6 separate regions of the Homo sapiens genome follow, and regions 2, 3, 4, 5 and 6 are each reported to be linked to region 1. The links are microRNA targets in miRTarBase. Many come from high-throughput screens and were not tested one by one. Region 1 holds a microRNA gene; each other region holds the end of a gene's coding sequence.
The links. The annotated mature microRNA hsa-miR-15a-5p reads UAGCAGCACAUAAUGGUUUGUG and lies in region 1 at 1,431-1,452, opposite strand. An mRNA with a match to its seed (bases 2 to 7 or 8) in the 3' UTR can be bound and repressed. Matches are read on the target gene's strand: a 7mer-m8 pairs with bases 2 to 8, a 7mer-A1 pairs with bases 2 to 7 and ends in A, and an 8mer does both.

Region 1 (3,135 bases):
CCACCCTCCTCGGCCTCCCAAAGTGCTGGGATTACAGGCTTGAGCCACTGTGCCCAGCTCTACTTTTCTTTTCTTTTTTTTTTTTTGTTGAGACAGAGTCTCCCTCTGTCACCCAGGCTGGAGTGCAGTGGTGCGATCTCAGCTCACTGGAAGCTCCGCCTCCCAGGTTCATGCCATTCTCCTGCCTCAGCCTCCCGAGTAGCTGGGACTACAGGCGCCCGCCACCACGCCTGGCTATTTTTTTTGTATTTTTAATAGAGATGGGGTTTCACCGTGTTAGCCAGGATGGTCTTGATCTCCTGACCTGGTGATCCGCCTGCCTCGGCTTCCCAAAGTGCGTGAGCCACCGCACCTGGCTGTCTACTTTTATTTTTAATAAAAAATTTTAAAAATACAAAAAAGTAAAAAAAAAAATTAAATTATGTTGACATTTTATATCAATAAAACTACAATGATAATTTGGTCTTACTCTGAGTTAAATCTTGAATACAAAAAAGTAAACAAAGTAAACAAGACCTTATTTTTGACTTATCAAACAAAAATCTTTGGCTAAGGATTTAAGAAAACATTTTAATAAAAACATGAAAAAAATAGTATACCATTATAAAGTTAGAAGACATAAGACTAAGACCCCAATCTGTGATGTGTAGCAAATTATTTGAGTTTTGTGTTTCCTTAGCTATCCAATGAGTGGGTTGGTCACTTGTAAGGGTTTTTCTACCTTTAAAGTTATGGTTAAGTGTGACGTTTTGACAACCAGAATTTTAGGTATTTAATTCACATATTTTGATGGCTTTTCCCCTTCAGATATAAAGAAATATTCAGAAACAGTACTAAATATTGTCTTCTAAGCTCTGTTCAAAATGCTTAATATATTTTATATTTATCTGTAAAGACATATTTTAAAAGTAATTTCAAAACAAAGGGAAAACTAGAATTTGTTTTATCCCAAGTAAAAATCTGAATTAATGTCTATGTTGAATATAAATGTGCATTAAAATAAATTCCTCTAATGCTGCATAAGCTTTTTAAAAAAACTTGATGGCATTCAATACAATTATTAAATTGCAATTACAGTATTTTAAGAGATGATACATCTGAAAAATTAGTATTAATTCATTTTTACAGAATCATACTAAAAATAACAAGATTATCAATAATACTGAAAAGACTATCAATAAAACTGAAAACACATTAGTAACATTAATATACATTAAAACACAACTGTAGAGTATGGTCAACCTTACTTCAGCAGCACAGTTAATACTGGAGATAATTTTAGAATCTTAACGCCAATATTTACGTGCTGCTAAGGCACTGCTGACATTGCTATCATAAGAGCTATGAATAAAAAGAAATATATTTTCTTCAGAAGATCAGATCCTTGTATTTTTGAGGCAGCACAATATGGCCTGCACCTTTTCAAAATCCACAAACCATTATGTGCTGCTACTTTACTCCAAGGTTTTATTTTTTTTAAACACACATTCGCGCCTAAAGAATATAAAAAATATTTTCTTTCAGGAAAAAAAGAATGCATGTAAAAAAATCTATGTTTAAACATTATAACATTGATGTAATATGCATAATTATTTTTAAGGAGATTTTAAGTAGAATAATAAAACATTTCTACATCAAAAACTTAACTGAAGTCCATTCTGTGCCCAGCACAGTGCTATAGGTTAGGAAACACAAAGAATAAAATGAGGAAAAGAAAAGCATTTATTTGCTATGCCAACTTAACAGGGCAATACAACTAAATGCTTAAACTTTTGAATATATTCAATATATGAAGTTATTTTTCCTTGTATAAACAAACAAGTAAATTTATAAAATTTGATCTTTACCTTGGTAAAAGGAGAATTTACAAACATTTTGTTCCTTGCAGTACACCTTTCAAAAGACATCTTCATCAAATAGGTAAGACTTCACATCAAGGGAAAAACATGAAATGACATACAAGAGCTCAGTTTCAATAAACTTAAGCTAGCAAAATGCAAATATACTTTTAAAGAAAAATACTTTAATTCTAAATGTTAATTTTATTAAATATCTAATTAAGACATTTTAATTCCAAATATAGTTAAGAAAAAAAGCTCTAAACAAACTAATTCTCCCTTAAATAATTTGTTATTAATAATCTAAATATTTTACTTTCAACATTGATCTTCATACTAGAAGTTCTCTTAGAGTTGGATATCATTTGATACAGTAATTCTAAAATATGAATCCTTAAGTAATTCTAAAATATGAATCCTTGGGATGATGAGTTAATTTGGTACCCTGAGATGAGAAATAAAACAAATCCCATAGCTCTTAATCTTCCTATTCCCTGTTTCTGGCCCATTTACCAGGTAAGGAAGAAACTCCTAGTTTCCACTTTCTCAGATGTAGAAATGAAATTCCTTTTCTCTAAAAGATATCAGAAAATTGCCACCACTCTAGTGGTGCCACCATTCAAGCCTGGACAATCTTTTTTGCCCCATGTTCTCATCATTAAAATGACTATGCTAAAGTTACATCTATTACAGAATAGTAAGGTGATGTACACAACCAAAGCACTAAAATTTGCTCTTCCATTCTAATATCTAATTACTTATACAAAGCACAGGGTCACATTCCATATGAAATTTTTCTGAGTATTTTTCCCATTAATAAAAAATATATGTAGCTAATCTCCTATCTAAGCAACCTGGATTTCACATATAACTCTGCTCCTTATTGTCTCAAGTTTCTGCACAACGTTTTTTAAATTTTTATTTTTTCTTTTTTTAAGAGAGTAGTTTCCGTATCTTTTAGAGAAAAAGAAATTCATTTCTACATCTGAGTAAGTGGAAACTTTAGGAGTATACTTCCTTACCTGGTAAATGGACCGGAAATAGGTAGGGAATAGGAAGATCAAGAGCTACAGGATTTGTTTTACTTCTCATCTCAGGGTACTCTGTTGCCCAGGATGGGGTACAGTGCCATGATCGTAGCTCACTGCAGCCTTGACCTCCTGGGCTTAAGTGATCAGTCCACCTTAGCCTCCCAAGTAGCTGGGACTACAAGTGCACACACCACCATGCACAGCTCTTTACATTTTTATTTTATTGTAGAGACAAGGTCTTGCTATGTTGCCTAGGATGTCTTGAA
Region 2 (3,135 bases), not on the chromosome of region 1:
TTTGTCTCAACTGCAGGACCTTCTTATGATCCAGATGGCTACCTTAAGTCCTGGATAGCCTAAAATGGGCAAAGTCTGGCCTTGTTCACAAATGATGATCCAAAACATTAACCACAGTTCTCCTTCTCTTTAGTATCCAAGACCCTGAAGTTGACTCAAGGAATGAAAAGAACAATCAGATCAGCATGTATATAATATCATTGGCCAACTTCTTCAAGGTATGGATTATTTAAAAGTACACATGGAAGTAAAATGCTTACTCAAACCTGAATAAGAAGTTTCTTGTAACTCAAGCACTTCTTGACTCACACTAAGTGTAGCACTGTAAACAAAAGACATCGTTGAGAAACTGAGGCTATCAAAACATTGGCATCTATGGGAGTTGTGGCCAAGGAAATAAAATACCTGAGCAACCTTATACCCAGTATGCATTTCATACCAGGATCAAGTCACTAATGACAGCCAAGTTCCAGGCTTATCTATGGCTGCCTAATGAGACTGGCCCCACTAGGATGGGGACTGGGGAGGGGACACACATGAGTGCCCAAGCTTCAGTCTACACCTCCCCCCTTCAGCCAGAAGCAGCCAGGGGAGCACAGGGACATCTGCTTCAAGAGCATTTTGGCAGCAAAAATCAATACTCTGTGGTTCCTGGAATTCCCACCCAGTAATTCCAAGTTCAAAATTACCACCAGTGCAACATGAAAAACTGTTAATAGTTTTTAAGTAAAGTGTACATACAGCTTTAATAACGATTATAATCTGAAGAAAGCCATTCTTCTTATACAGGATGGAAAATCCTCAAAGCAACATTTTAAACCATGGACACTAGAGTTGTCATACATCTATTCAGAGATGAGAGATAAACAGACATCCTTCCATGTGGAAACAGACACTCCCATGTCAACAAGTCCCCTAGGATCAGAGAGAAAAGCAGACCCGTGGTCATCACTAGGTGTCTCTGGTGTCTCGCTAAAGATGGAGTCCTATGTAGGTTGGCCTAAGTTGGCCTCAGAGGGAGGTGGCTGAGCAGCAAAGCAAGACAGCATGTGTGTAACCAGCCAGGCAAAATAACAAGTCTGTGCTACCTGGAGTGTATTTTCAGGAAAACAGGACCATATGGAGTGTGGGGCAGGGACATTCGCTGTGCTAAACTGCCACTGTAAAAGCACACTGTTGAAAGCATGCAGGACAGAAAACTGCAATAATTCAGAGCTTGAAAACAAGAAATAACAGAAATATGAATATTTCAAATACACACTTCATATACTGAAAATAAGAGCATTTGAAGAAAGGCTGGAATGGGTTTTCCAAAGACTCACACATTTTGGGGTTCCAAATTCAATGTTCTAAGCTTCTCTATCACAAAGAGATCAAGAACAAAAGCAAAGCTGGGGGTCCTGGCCAGGCTGAGTGGTACCTTGAGCCGGTCCCTGTGTCCTGAGGGTCCCTGGGCCCCATATCCCATCCATAACCCAAGTCTGCTCAGCTACAGTCTGCCCTGGTGCTCAGTGAACAGCCACAGAGTCCCACTTCTGCACAGGATGGGCCTTCAGAGTGATGAGAGAGCATCTCCCGCACAGTGCAAACCCCCAAAGGCCAGAAATGGGAACGCTCTAACTAAGGCTCTCCTTCCACTCCCTCACTGTTCCTTTAATATTACTCTCTCAGCAAGTAGAAAAATAGGCTATAAGGAGGCTTAGGCAGACACACACTCAAACAGCCTCTTGGAATAAAGCAAATCTGCCTCCACATACTTGTTTGTATATTGTTCTGGCTTCTCCAGGATTTTTTTTTTTTTTTTGAGACAGAGTCTCACTCTGTCACCCAGGCTGAAGTGCAGTGGCACTATCTTGGCTCACTGCAAGCTCCGCCTCCTGGGTTCACACTATTCTCCTGCCTCAGCCTCCCGAGTAGCTGGGACCACAGGCGCCTGCCACCACGCCCAGCTAATTTTTTGTATTTTTAGTAGAGATGGGGTTTCACCGTGTTAGCCAGGATGGTCTCGATCTCCTGACCTCGTGATCCGCCCGCCTCGGTCTCTCAAAGTGCTGGGATTACAGGCGTGAGCCACCGCGCCCAGCCAGCTTCTCCAAGTTTTAAAGGATTAAAGCCCTCAAACTCTCAGGCTTAAATCAATTCCTAATGTGGGATATGTTCTCCAAGTATGCCTACCAAAGCCATACAAGAATAAAGTGAGCAGCAGCAGCAGCTAGGGTCAGGCAGATTTCTGAAGCATGATTGTTCAAAGGCGGGCTGTGCCCCATCATCCTGAGCCATCGGCCTTGCCAGGGGCCTGTGGAGCCCCAGAGGGCAGGACGGGGGCTCTCACACCATAGCCTCGGGAAGTACCTGGGAGCTTACCAACCCACAACTCCTAAAGTAACATGCAACCAGTTCTGGTCTGTGGTTTGAAAAAGTTAAACGCAAAGAAGCTGTAGCTTTTCTTGCCACAATCACTCAATAGGCATACAACACTATATTACTGGCATAACATGAAAATAAATTAACCCTTAAGCACTACACCTAACTCTAAAAAGAAAATGCCTTTCAAAACAGGTATGCTCAAATAAGGTATTCTGAGAGTTGCACAAGAACAGTCTTGGAATGAGCCAGTGCCCCCGGAGAGTCAACATTTGAACAAAATAGCACAGTTCAAACCCTTCTCTGTGGTACTTATGTGGATTAGTACAATTATGACATCACTACTTTCAAAGGAATGATTAAAACTATTATTAAAAACTTTTGTCACAAACAGAAATGCCCTGCAAATCATATTATTGCACACAGGGTTATCAGAAGCTATGCACATCAAGACCTTGAGGCCCCTAGAAGACCCAAAATAGAGACCCTAAGGCCATGCCCGTGGCTGCTCCTGCCAGCATGCCCAGTGCCAGGTCGCTGTCGTTGTCTCGATAGCGCTCTCGAATGATGACTTGGTTAGCAGGCTGCTGTCCATAAAGTCCTAAAAGAGAAGGAAAATAGCAGATTTCTGAGCAGCGGTTTGTGAAGTTTAACATCACGCAAAGTACCAGTTCTCCTTTCACAAAAGGGATCTGCTGTCTCCTGTCACACTGGCGACCCAGCCCTCCTCCACAACAGGCACATCATGTGGCCGACATCCCTGAAACCGCA
Region 3 (3,135 bases), not on the chromosome of region 1:
GAAAAGATGTAAGGGACTGTTACTCCAACACTGAAGATTTTAAAAAGCTATCCATGTATTTCCAACAGTCAGTGAAGGTTATTATATCTAGAGAGGCAGTTTGATTTTCCATTTTATGCTGATTTGTTATATAAAATAATTATATAAATTTATTTTCATTCAAACCAGTTCACTAAAAGTGTGTGTGTGTGTGTGTGTGTGTGTATTTAAAGTTATTTTTGGATATGAATATTGGTGGGGAAATAATACTTGATTTCAGTTTAGAGTTTAACAAACTCAGAAGTTGATTTTAGATTGTAATTCATGGTTCAGATAAAGTTTTTACTACCTCAGTATTCCAAATACCAGATTCTGACAAAACATTTGGTCACTGAGTCATTCAGATCTTTCCTCTGCTGATGCGATAAACAGTGGCCAGCAAAGAAAACCTCCGCTCGCTTACATCTATTTTTAGGTGTCCTTTAGATTATGAATGTTTGCCTGTATGCGAATATTACATGTCTTCTGTCCATTTATACAATTTTTTTGCTTCATATAACTTCTTTAATATTTTCTTTTTAATTTTTATGGATTTGGATTATTTTTAATCTTCATATCCATTGGCACTCTTTACAAAGAATGAAAATACAAATTTAAAAAGCCTAATTATAGTCTTTCTAATTACAGAAAAAAAACATTCATTAGAAGAAATACTGACTGCTAGAAAGGAAGGAAATTTAGAAATAAACTAAACTTTTCCTTTCATAAGATGGAAAAAACTGAAGCCAAATTTGGTGGTAACTTGTTCAGGGTCTTTAGGTGGAATGATAAAGGGAATACTAGAACTTCTGACAACTGAATTCTGCCTCCTGAACCCCCGCCACTACTCAAGTGGCCCAAAAAGTGCAGTTATTTCTTATTTTGGACTTCTCATTTTTCATATTAACAGTAGTTCATAAGCATTTAAAGATGTATTATTTGCCATTTACAGAGTAAACATGGATAAGGAAAGATAGCTTTATTTTTAAAAGAAATAAATTCTCTATTTAAAGCATACATGAGATAGTATCTTTCATTTAGTCCTAAGCTTGATTATTTATGCTCATTGTAATATTCCAGTGACATTCTGGACATAAATTTCAAGTATATCACCATATACTTATTGTTAAATATCAAACAAAGCTACTGACTGTGAGGGAAAAATTTCAGTGATTTTTTTTGTTTGTTTTTTTGTTACTTACCCTGAGATACTCATCCCACAGTATATCTGAGATTTAGCTGAACATTTACAAATTTTAACAAATTTTTTTTCTTTCCATTGCATGCATCGATATGCCAAATTCTGCACTTCAATCCAGGTAAAATAATGATAGTGTTTGTAAACCAGATAGTGAAAACCAGTGTGTTTTCTAATACTGCCCATGATAGACAGAGTGAAATCACAGCATAAACAGTAGCCAGGAACCTATACTGCAAACATTTGGCTTCAAGTATCTTGCAACAAATAGCTACTAATATGACCATACACGGCACATAGAACACCACAGTCCTGGATTGTAGCATGCCTGTAAAACCCATTAAAGCATTTTTTTCTCAAACTTTTTGTTCATTATTACCCTCCTTCCCAATTACAGAAATTAAATTCAAATTACATTAAATAGTTTTAACTACAAATTTCTTCCCAATGAGATAAATTAATACTAAGGAATAAGATTTTGTTGGATAGGATGATATTGGAAGTCCACAAGCCATATCTAATATTTTTTCACCCCAAGAACCAATTTTTGTCCCCAATTGAGAATGTAATGCTTAAAGTTGATTAAATAAATTAAATAGCCTTTAACATTATTAGAAAAAAACCTAGTGGGTAACAATGGAGGTTGAGATAGTTGACTTCTAGATCATCTTTTTTCCATACTTGCTGTATGAACAGAGAATAAGTCATGTCTTTTTATTTTCTTGTTTTGGAGAACACAGGAATAGCATAAAACCTCATAGCCTGCAAAAATCACTTAATCTCACTGGACTCAATGTTCTTGACTATTAATTGAAAGAACTGGTATAGATCAGTTGGTTTTCAATTCTGGTTGTACTTTCCTAGGGCATATAAAAGATAACAAAAGATAACAACGCTCAGCCATATTTACCCAGACCAATTAAGCCAAGTCTCTGGAGGATATGTTCTAGCCAGTGGGTCTCAAACTGTACTGTAAATCAGAATCACCTGACGGGCTTGTTAAACCAGATTGGTAGGCCTTACTCTCAGAGCTTCTGATTCAGCAGGTTTTGCGTGGGGCCTGCAAATATGCATTATCAAGTTCTCAGGTAATGCTATGCTATTAGTCTATGGATCACACTTTGAGAACCACTGGACTAGGCATATGTGTAAGAGTGACTGTGCGTGTGAGTGTGTGTCCCCAGGTGAATTCTAATCACAAAACTACTGTATAGAAAATATCAATAAGGTTCTAAGTTTTAGGATACTGAGATTTTAATATAATAAGAGTTGTTAAACATCAAGATGATTTATAGAAAGGAGACCTATGGACAAATATCAACTTATTGGTCAATAAAACTTGTTCCTTAAAGTCTTTTACAGTATTTTTTGAAAATTAACTTTTTTTTAACTGCATATATGGGTCTTCACTTCATTTTTCAGTAAAGACAACTTATTTGGATATCAGTGTCTCATCACTTGATAAGACCAGTGGAGGATTTGGATAGTAGCCAGCTGTTTTTGAATTGCTTGAAGAGAATCTTGTAAATTTGTAGTCCAGAGGTAATTCTGGGGAGGAAAAAAAAATTTAATTATTGCACAGGTCTCTGAATGCCTTTCATAAACAAATCAAAACTTGATATTCACTAATAAAACTTATTTTTTAGACGTAAAATTTTAATATTTCTTTTGCTCCTTCAGTAGGTCTGTGTGTAGCTATTATTATAAGGTTAAAAATGTGTATAAACCAACCACCATTGTAATACATATGGCTAATAAAGACAAACTTTTACAACAGCTATAAAAAAGGCTTCTAGGCATTTAAATGTGAATGAGATAACCATGTCTAACAGAATATCCACAAGTATAGAAACATTACTTGAATATAAAAAGGTTTTAAGAGGCAAAAGGGATGTACCAGGTTATTTTTCACTTCCTAT
Region 4 (3,135 bases), not on the chromosome of region 1:
CTCAGCGAAAATAGTAACAATCTTGATAAACCAGATTTTTGCCTCTCCTTTAGTGGAGAAAAACGGCCGAGCTGGGTTTTAGACAAACGCCTTGGAGTCCGAATGTTCAGTCCAACTACCTGCATTCAACTTGAGCATGCACCGTGGAATGGCCATTCATGGCCAGAGGGATGACCTCTTTTGCTCTATAGTTGAAAACTAGCTATCAGAAGGGGGTTAGCAAATTCTAGAGCTTTTTCTATCCAGAGATCACCGCTGACCCTAGGCATTTTGCTCGAGTTTGACTTTATGAAGCTGTGTTGGTTGAAGCTTTTCACCCTCGGAATGTACTGTTTCTGGTCAGGTTCCTTCTATCCGTGTTTGCATTTGGAGCAGTGAACTGACACATTTTGTCTATCTGAAAAGGTATGGACTACCAGTGAACTTCCAGGCAGTGCTCCTGCAGCCGCATAAGAAGTCATCCACCAAGCGTTTAAGAGAGGTTCTAAACTCTGTCTTCCGACATCTGGATGAAGTAGCCGCTACAAGTATACTGGATGTAGGTATCCAGAAACAGCAGTATTTCTACAGTAAGCTCAGCATCTTACTTTCAAAAAACTGGTATCTGCCTGTAATCCCAACACTTTGGGAGGTAGGTGGATCACTTGAGGTCAAGGGTTTGAGACCAGCCTAGCCAACATGGTAAGACCCTGTCTCTACTAAAAAAAAAATTGGGCTGGGCATAGTGGCTCACGCCTGTAATCCCAGCACTTCAGGAGGCCAAGGCGGGTGGATCACGAAGTCAAGAGATGGAGACCAACCTGGCCAACATGGTGAAACCCTGTCTCTACTAAAAATACAAAAATTAGCTGGGTATGGTGGTGTGTGCCTGTAGTCTCAGCTACTTGGGAGGTTGAGGCAGGAGAATCGCTTGAACCTGGGAGGCGGAGGTTGCAGTGAGCTGAGATCACGCCACTACACTCCAGCCTGGCGACAGAACAAGACTCTGTCTCAAAAAAAAAAAAAAAAAAAAAAAAAAAAAAAAAATTTGCCAGGAGTGGTGGTGCATGCCTGTAATCCCAGCTACTTGGGAGTCTGAGGCAGGCAGTGAGCTGAGTCCAGCCTGGGTGACAGAAACTGTCTCAAAAACAAAACAAAGCAAAACTATCTGTCAGCCTGTTATGAAAATCTACATGTCATACACATTAAAGCACAGCAAGGAGAGGGTTGGAGGGGTGGACCACAGCTACGCAGAGCAGAACGTACGCTCAGTGCCTGGCGAGCTTCCTCAAAACTAAAAGGATAAGACAGGAAACTAGTTTATGCACTTAGAGCATTACCATGTCTTCTTTTGTAGGCATCTGTGGAGATCCCGGGACTGCAACTCAATAACCAAGACTATTTTCCTTATGTCTACTTCCATATTGACCTTAGTCTTCTTGACTAGAAAGGCCAGCTGGCACCTCTGTCTCATGTTCGTGCAGATTATTACAGACACCTCTTTCCTTTAGCCAGAGAATGGTTCAAATGTCTTACAGAACTAAGATCTTTTTCAGAGAAATTGCTCACAAAAGTTAGTGACAGTTGTATTTATTTTTTTAAGTTACAATAAAATGCTCTCAAGTCCTTTGAATGTTCCAACAAATTCAAAACTTCATTTTCTGAATGTTTTACATAAATGCGAACTACCTGTTCGCATTGGTAACCTGCTGCTGTATTTCATGTCTTAACGGCTATTTTGAGGTTCATTAACAACATAGAAAGCCTTGAACTGTATAACCAGCTAGATTCCTTAATAATTAGTCACTAGAGACAGCCCAAAGACAAATATTGGGCAGGAAATCAGTTCTCACTGAGCCCGGTTTCCATGTAAAATCTCTGTTGTGGTGGGCATAGGTGGCACCATCTAAAGAAAAGAGGTCTTGTTTTTTGTTTAAAAAAGTTTGTGGGGAGGAAAGACATCTGTGTATCACTTCAAAATATTGATTTACTGCTAAACATCACTCTGAATTTATGATGTGGATACTAACTTCATACATTTATCGGCATTGTCCAAAATATTTTATTCTTTAATGGAAAAAGCCATTAATATTCAAATGAAGGGATCACATTAAAAAAAACCCATACATAAGAAACAGCCTCCAAGAACATTCAAGCAGCAGTCAGAGAGAAAAATGTTTCGACAGCCAAGTTTTCTTCAAAATATTATGTGACAGAATACGACTCAATTCACCGGCTACAACAATTCATAGAATTTTTCAATGTTTTCTTGAGATGCAAAAGTTCACTGTTGCAGTGTTTTCAAATGACCAATCAAGTACTACTTCTTGGTTAAAAGGCCACTGGTAGAGTCATCTGAGTGTAGAGAATGTCCCTTCACTGCTGGAAAAATCCACTGGCTCCCAAGAAAAGAAAATGGTCTGAAGCCTCTGTTGTGGCTCTCACAACTCATCTTTCCCTAAGTCATCAAGCTCCACATCACTGAGGTCAATGTCATCCTCCACGGGAAGCTGGGAGACGACAGAAAGCCACTGTTAGATCTGCAGAAGGGGACACCCTGGAAGGTCAACATCTCATTTTATGGAAGAGCGACTCTCTGGAGCTACTCCTGCTACAATCCAGGTTCTCCTCAGTCTGACTCCTACCCTGACCTTCGTACCTATGATTATACGGATGGAAAAGCTCAGAACTCAGGTGAAACATTTCAACATCACATCACTCACCATTTTAACACTGGAAGCCACTTGAACGTGTCCTTTTGAGGAGGGTGGGACACAACAGTACAGAAATAAGTGCTAATTTCAAAGCTATCATTTTCTATTTTTCTAAGATAAAGTAAATGAATTCCAGGTTAAATGTTCACTTTAAGGTAATAATCAGGAAAGCAACCTTACTACTGAAATGTATCTTGGCTGTCAAGAGTATCAAATGCCATGCAGCACTTAAACTTGTGATAAGGAAGATGAAGGGTCTTCAGAGAAGAACCTCTTAAAAGGCCCACGGGTGCACCAGGGCTGAGGTCTGATGGGAAGGACTTGACTCCAGGTGCAGAGATGCACAGGCTCAAGAGAGTAAACCAGGACTGCTGCCCGCACAGCTTCCCTCCCGGGCACTCACCTCGCCATCCCTGCCGTCCCAAGGCTCTCTCTCAACGAT
Region 5 (3,000 bases), not on the chromosome of region 1:
AGTTCTGTTTTGAACACCAAGATCAGACACAGCCCCCTACACAATGGTAAATACACACATTTGCATACACAGGAAATCAAAATACACAGCACAACAGGTCTCTGGGACATGAAAGCCGTCATCCTGGCTATGCAGAGCCCCCGCCCCTGGCAGTCAGCAGAGACCCTGTCCAGGCTGAAGGCCAGCACAGCATCTCCTTTACTGTCCTGTGCCACCTCTGCCCTCTCTGATCTTTCCCAAAGGCCAGTTCACACAGAGTCACCAGCAATAGGATACACAGAAACAGAAAAGGGCACGGCACATGACAACTTCGCGGTCATAACTCCCAGGAAAAGGAAATGCTCCCTGAACCCCCAGCCCTGAAATCCCCAGTAAGGAAACAGGACCCGCGGCATCTCACGGACCAGGCAAACATCCAGGCCTAACTGTGCCCTGGCTGTGCCTTGGGCCCAGGTGAGCCCATGAGAGCACTACGTCAGCAAATGGGGGGAGCAGTATTTCCCTTGGTTCTAAGAATGAACCACATACTTGACATGAATGAGAAGGTAACCAAAAAAAAAAAAAAAAAAAAAAAAAAAACAACAAGAAAAGGTAGAGTTTGGTTTTAAGAGTAAAATAACACAGAAGTTACCACTCAGGGCATTTGTCTGATTTCTTTTAAGGCACTTTGGAAAAGTCAGGATCTGCGGACAGAAAGAGAGGCTTTCATTCTTCTTATTTCCCACAACTCCCTCTCAATGCAGTCATTTCTAGTTTTAATAATATCCTTGGTATAGAGTGGGGAACTGACAGAGAAATACTTTTTGCATAGTCCAGCTGCTTCTGCAATGGAAAATAATTTTTAACCAATACAAAGGCTTCTGGAAAAAGAACCAAGTTAGCATCTGAGATGCGCAAAGCAGTAAAGGCACAGATAAGACTGGGGCCAGGCACCAGCTCAGCCTCCACACTGAGGGCTGGTACCCAGGAGGGCAGTGGTTTGGGGTCCGCCACGAGCACAAGGCTCAACCCTGGGATTAGGCAGCTGAGTCTTGGAACCTGAGCCCAGGCTGGACCTGGCAAAGGCGCTCAGTGGTAGGAGTGCCTTGTGTCATCTCATCCCAGGTGGCTCAATAGCTCCCAACAGAGGTGGGTTTGTGACAGACAGCCCTGTGGGTGGGAGCCTCAACTGGGGTGGGAGCACCTGTGAAAACCTGAGGTGGAACAGGAGGCTTTAGGCACCGAAGTTCTTGGGAGGGAGTTGGGGTGTGGGTTCGGCTGAACTTCTTTCTAGATCACTAATTAAAAGGCACATTCATGCTGGGGAATGGATAGTCTGTTTGACCCTGAGTGCCACAGTCAAGTTTTAGGGGACAGGCAAGAGGCAAAGGAACAAAAAGGGAGACGAAGGAAGGAATGAGAAAGGCAGGGGAAAAGAGGAAGGAGGAAGAACTGGTAACAAAGGGTGGGCCACGGAGTGTGGCTAGCAGAGCCTCTGAGGGAGGTGGCCCCCACCAGAACAGAGGCTCCCTCTGCCTGGGGAGGTGCAAAGGGCTGGTAAACAACCTGACTGCTGTTATTTACAACCCCCCAGCCTAGGGGCCTGAGGGGTCAGTCTAAGGAGGCTGAGGCTCCCTCCGCCCTGCCCACCTGGGGAGGGTTGGGGAAGTGGAGAGTTCTGCACAGTAGGTGCAGAGGCTTCTGTCTCCCAGGTATCCTCCCCGAGGTCTGGCAGGATAATGCTGACCGGGAGGCCTTACCTGCCAAGGGGCCAGAGGGTGATTTTGCTCTTGAGAAAACCTGGCCTGCCAGCTAAATCATAGGCCTATTTGTGGCCACTACAGCATATATTTATTTTTCTCCCTAAAAAATGCTCAATACCCCTCCCCATATTTAAAACACCACAATAAAAATACATAGGAAATTCAAGTTTACATAGCATGCCAAGAAAAATAAATTGTCATGACTTAACATTAAACAGCTATGCAAATTTGGATCAACACAAAATCAAGCTAGATCATAATTAGAACTCGATCTGTTCTTTCTTTAAAATACTACAAACTACTATTTAAAAAAAAACACAACAACTTTACATTCAGAAATCAGACAATCTGGAGATAGGCCACTGAATGCGAGAAACCCAAGGCTTTTGCTCTGATGCTAGAGTTGCCCTGGAATCCACACACATAGGACAAAAGGTCCAGGGCTCAAGTTTTAAAATCCTTTTGCTAAGAAAAGACATATGCACAGTGATTGCAGTGGTTGCATACCACTGAAAGAAGGGGGTGGGGGGAGGACGTAACATTAAGAATGGTTGAAATTTTGTGTTTTTCTGTTAAATTACAACTACCAAAAAGATCACACCAATCCAATTTTAGCAGCACTCTCCGAATTTTCACGAATAAGAAAACCATAATTTAAAGAAAAATTCTAACCTATTTCACGACAATTTAGCAATTCTATCACCGGGAATGTGTTCCACGGCCACCAAATTTTGGGATGTGTACAGTTCTGACTCTGGGGTGACACTGCGAACACATCAAGAAACCCGCAAAGGCATAAACACCTTGCAGAGCTAAGAATTCACATGCCGAGCCAAGTTGGGGGCAAAATATCCCACTCGTCCTGGTCATCTGGAAAGCCATCTGAATGATGAGCGAAGGGGACCTGTCACTCAGACTGGTAAAAATGAGAGGGACCAGCCCAGCAGATTGGCAGAGACACACAGCAGAGGTCCCTGGCTAATTTCAGGTCTCTTATCCGTGTACCAAAACGCTAGCTCGGTGTCCCGATGTCCACTGTGATTTGGGTATACAATGGGTATCTCTGTACATCCAGCACCTGGTAGGTGAGTGAGTTCAAACCATCAGAGAGCATTGTCTCCTTTGTGTGTGCAATTCGGTCAAACCTACAAGGAAAAGAGCACAAGGAGATTGTCTTAAAACAAAAATCTTAAGAAGAAATCATCACACGTACTTCCTCCTCCCTCTCCACTGTAACCTGACCACCTCAATTTCCCTC
Region 6 (3,088 bases), not on the chromosome of region 1:
CCCTTAAGGAGTGGGAGGGGAAGTGAAACGGGAGGGGACTCCGCCTTTTCAATCACAAAAGTCATGAGAGTAACCTGGTTCCTCTTCCCTGCTCTGGGACAGGTACAGCCAAGCTGATGCTCTCAAGTACGTGGGGATCGAGAGGGAGACCGACGTCCTTTAGCCCTCCCAGGCCCCACGGCAGCACTTATGGTAGCGGCACTGTCTTGGCTTTCGTGCTCACACCACTGCTGCTCGAGTCTCCTGCACTGTGTCTCCCACACTGAGAAACCCCCCAACCCACTCCCTCTGTAGTGAGGCCTCTGCCATGTCCAGAGGGCACAAAACTGTCTCAATGAGAGGGGAGACAGAGGCAGCTAGGGCTTGGTCTCCCAGGACAGAGAGTTACAGAAATGGGAGACTGTTTCTCTGGCCTCAGAAGAAGCGAGCACAGGCTGGGGTGGATGACTTATGCGTGATTTCGTGTCGGCTCCCCAGGCTGTGGCCTCAGGAATCAACTTAGGCAGTTCCCAACAAGCGCTAGCCTGTAATTGTAGCTTTCCACATCAAGAGTCCTTATGTTATTGGGATGCAGGCAAACCTCTGTGGTCCTAAGACCTGGAGAGGACAGGCTAAGTGAAGTGTGGTCCCTGGAGCCTACAAGTGGTCTGGGTTAGAGGCGAGCCTGGCAGGCAGCACAGACTGAACTCAGAGGTAGACAGGTCACCTTACTACCTCCTCCCTCGTGGCAGGGCTCAAACTGAAAGAGTGTGGGTTCTAAGTACAGGCATTCAAGGCTGGGGGAAGGAAAGCTACGCCATCCTTCCTTAGCCAGAGAGGGAGAACCAGCCAGATGATAGTAGTTAAACTGCTAAGCTTGGGCCCAGGAGGCTTTGAGAAAGCCTTCTCTGTGTACTCTGGAGATAGATGGAGAAGTGTTTTCAGATTCCTGGGAACAGACACCAGTGCTCCAGCTCCTCCAAAGTTCTGGCTTAGCAGCTGCAGGCAAGCATTATGCTGCTATTGAAGAAGCATTAGGGGTATGCCTGGCAGGTGTGAGCATCCTGGCTCGCTGGATTTGTGGGTGTTTTCAGGCCTTCCATTCCCCATAGAGGCAAGGCCCAATGGCCAGTGTTGCTTATCGCTTCAGGGTAGGTGGGCACAGGCTTGGACTAGAGAGGAGAAAGATTGGTGTAATCTGCTTTCCTGTCTGTAGTGCCTGCTGTTTGGAAAGGGTGAGTTAGAATATGTTCCAAGGTTGGTGAGGGGCTAAATTGCACGCGTTTAGGCTGGCACCCCGTGTGCAGGGCACACTGGCAGAGGGTATCTGAAGTGGGAGAAGAAGCAGGTAGACCACCTGTCCCAGGCTGTGGTGCCACCCTCTCTGGCATTCATGCAGAGCAAAGCACTTTAACCATTTCTTTTAAAAGGTCTATAGATTGGGGTAGAGTTTGGCCTAAGGTCTCTAGGGTCCCTGCCTAAATCCCACTCCTGAGGGAGGGGGAAGAAGAGAGGGTGGGAGATTCTCCTCCAGTCCTGTCTCATCTCCTGGGAGAGGCAGACGAGTGAGTTTCACACAGAAGAATTTCATGTGAATGGGGCCAGCAAGAGCTGCCCTGTGTCCATGGTGGGTGTGCCGGGCTGGCTGGGAACAAGGAGCAGTATGTTGAGTAGAAAGGGTGTGGGCGGGTATAGATTGGCCTGGGAGTGTTACAGTAGGGAGCAGGCTTCTCCCTTCTTTCTGGGACTCAGAGCCCCGCTTCTTCCCACTCCACTTGTTGTCCCATGAAGGAAGAAGTGGGGTTCCTCCTGACCCAGCTGCCTCTTACGGTTTGGTATGGGACATGCACACACACTCACATGCTCTCACTCACCACACTGGAGGGCACACACGTACCCCGCACCCAGCAACTCCTGACAGAAAGCTCCTCCCACCCAAATGGGCCAGGCCCCAGCATGATCCTGAAATCTGCATCCGCCGTGGTTTGTATTCATTGTGCATATCAGGGATACCCTCAAGCTGGACTGTGGGTTCCAAATTACTCATAGAGGAGAAAACCAGAGAAAGATGAAGAGGAGGAGTTAGGTCTATTTGAAATGCCAGGGGCTCGCTGTGAGGAATAGGTGAAAAAAAACTTTTCACCAGCCTTTGAGAGACTAGACTGACCCCACCCTTCCTTCAGTGAGCAGAATCACTGTGGTCAGTCTCCTGTCCCAGCTTCAGTTCATGAATACTCCTGTTCCTCCAGTTTCCCATCCTTTGTCCCTGCTGTCCCCCACTTTTAAAGATGGGTCTCAACCCCTCCCCACCACGTCATGATGGATGGGGCAAGGTGGTGGGGACTAGGGGAGCCTGGTATACATGCGGCTTCATTGCCAATAAATTTCATGCACTTTAAAGTCCTGTGGCTTGTGACCTCTTAATAAAGTGTTAGAATCCATTTTGGCAAGTTGTGTACTGTGTGCTTTGGGGCTGGAAGGATCCAGGGATGGGGTCCAGGAGCAGGTTGGGCCGAAGCATCAGCATTCTGATCCCCACTTACCCACTGAGATCTGGGAAAGGGGGAGATGGGGGTTCTGGCAAGAGCCAGTCAGTCAAGTCCCTGGAAGGTGATGCAAGGATTCTGAGAGCTCCTTCTAGAAATTCCTGAGCCCTCAGATTAGTTCCCTTAAAATCATCCCACTTATCCCCTAACCACGACGCCAGCTACCACACACAGACTGGGGCTCTGCCACTCTGCTTTATTGGAACGGCTCCGCGTCTGAGAGCACAGCAGGCTCAACCCTGCTTCAGAGTGGAGGCCGGACCAGGCTGGTGGGTGACCAGCAGGACTCACGACACTTCCAACACAGGAAAGGCAAACTACAGACTGTGGGCACAGCACAGCACAGGACAGCACAGCCAATTGAGCTTTTCTTTTATATATAAACAAATAATTTAAAAATTCGAATAATATATAGAGTTTCTCTAGAGAGACACTTTGCAACAAAAAATATATATAAAGAATATGACCTCCTGGGTAAATGAAGCAGCATCTCTGAGCGGAGGAAAGAGGGTTCCTCATGCACTGGAGGGGGCGAAGCCTTTGGGCAGGCACAAAGGCCATTG

Region 2: the mRNA of PLEKHB2 is a reported target of hsa-miR-15a-5p. Seed matches in the 3' UTR shown: 7mer-m8 at 2,205-2,211, 7mer-m8 at 2,202-2,208, 7mer-m8 at 2,199-2,205 and 7mer-m8 at 1,029-1,035.
Region 3: miRTarBase lists NT5DC1 as a target of hsa-miR-15a-5p. The part of its 3' UTR that is shown has no 7-base or 8-base seed match.
Region 4: the mRNA of PDIA6 is a reported target of hsa-miR-15a-5p. Seed matches in the 3' UTR shown: 7mer-m8 at 2,134-2,140.
Region 5: the mRNA of B4GALT1 is a reported target of hsa-miR-15a-5p. Seed matches in the 3' UTR shown: 8mer at 2,355-2,362.
Region 6: the mRNA of EZH1 is a reported target of hsa-miR-15a-5p. Seed matches in the 3' UTR shown: 7mer-m8 at 229-235 and 8mer at 995-1,002.

Annotation. Positions count from the first base shown.
Region 1 is chr13:50,047,737-50,050,871 of GRCh38, forward strand. It overlaps MIR15A (microRNA 15a), which reads right to left and starts at 1,465; the gene lies at 1,383-1,465. It overlaps DLEU2 (deleted in lymphocytic leukemia 2), which reads right to left. Exons shown (of 14, transcript NR_152566.1): 6 at 1,848-1,926. MIR16-1 (microRNA 16-1) reads right to left here and starts at 1,325; the gene lies at 1,237-1,325.
Region 2 is chr2:131,146,467-131,149,601 of GRCh38, reverse strand. PLEKHB2 (pleckstrin homology domain containing B2) reads right to left here. Exons shown (of 8, transcript NM_001100623.2): 8 at 1-2,965. The coding sequence ends at 2,829. Among named protein-coding and RNA genes, the nearest start is that of PLEKHB2, 43 kb to the right of the region's middle.
Region 3 is chr6:116,243,538-116,246,672 of GRCh38, reverse strand. NT5DC1 (5'-nucleotidase domain containing 1) reads right to left here. Exons shown (of 12, transcript NM_152729.3): 12 at 1-2,764. The coding sequence ends at 2,649. Among named protein-coding and RNA genes, the nearest start is that of TSPYL4, 9.0 kb to the left of the region's middle.
Region 4 is chr2:10,781,838-10,784,972 of GRCh38, forward strand. PDIA6 (protein disulfide isomerase family A member 6) reads right to left here. Exons shown (of 13, transcript NM_005742.4): 12 at 3,097-3,135; 13 at 1,554-2,489. The coding sequence ends at 2,421. ATP6V1C2 (ATPase H+ transporting V1 subunit C2) reads left to right here. Exons shown (of 14, transcript NM_001039362.2): 13 at 406-538; 14 at 1,337-3,135. The coding sequence ends at 1,426. Among named protein-coding and RNA genes, the nearest start is that of PDIA6, 29 kb to the right of the region's middle.
Region 5 is chr9:33,110,700-33,113,699 of GRCh38, forward strand. B4GALT1 (beta-1,4-galactosyltransferase 1) reads right to left here. Exons shown (of 6, transcript NM_001497.4): 6 at 1-2,887. The coding sequence ends at 2,755. Among named protein-coding and RNA genes, the nearest start is that of MIR12117, 3.5 kb to the left of the region's middle. RefSeq lists an enhancer at 892-1,491.
Region 6 is chr17:42,699,607-42,702,694 of GRCh38, reverse strand. It overlaps EZH1 (enhancer of zeste 1 polycomb repressive complex 2 subunit), which reads left to right. Exons shown (of 21, transcript NM_001991.5): 21 at 103-2,420. The coding sequence ends at 163. CNTNAP1 (contactin associated protein 1) reads right to left here. Exons shown (of 24, transcript NM_003632.3): 24 at 2,702-3,088. Among named protein-coding and RNA genes, the nearest start is that of MIR6780A, 7.0 kb to the left of the region's middle. RefSeq lists an enhancer at 2,811-3,088 and a cis regulatory region at 2,811-3,088.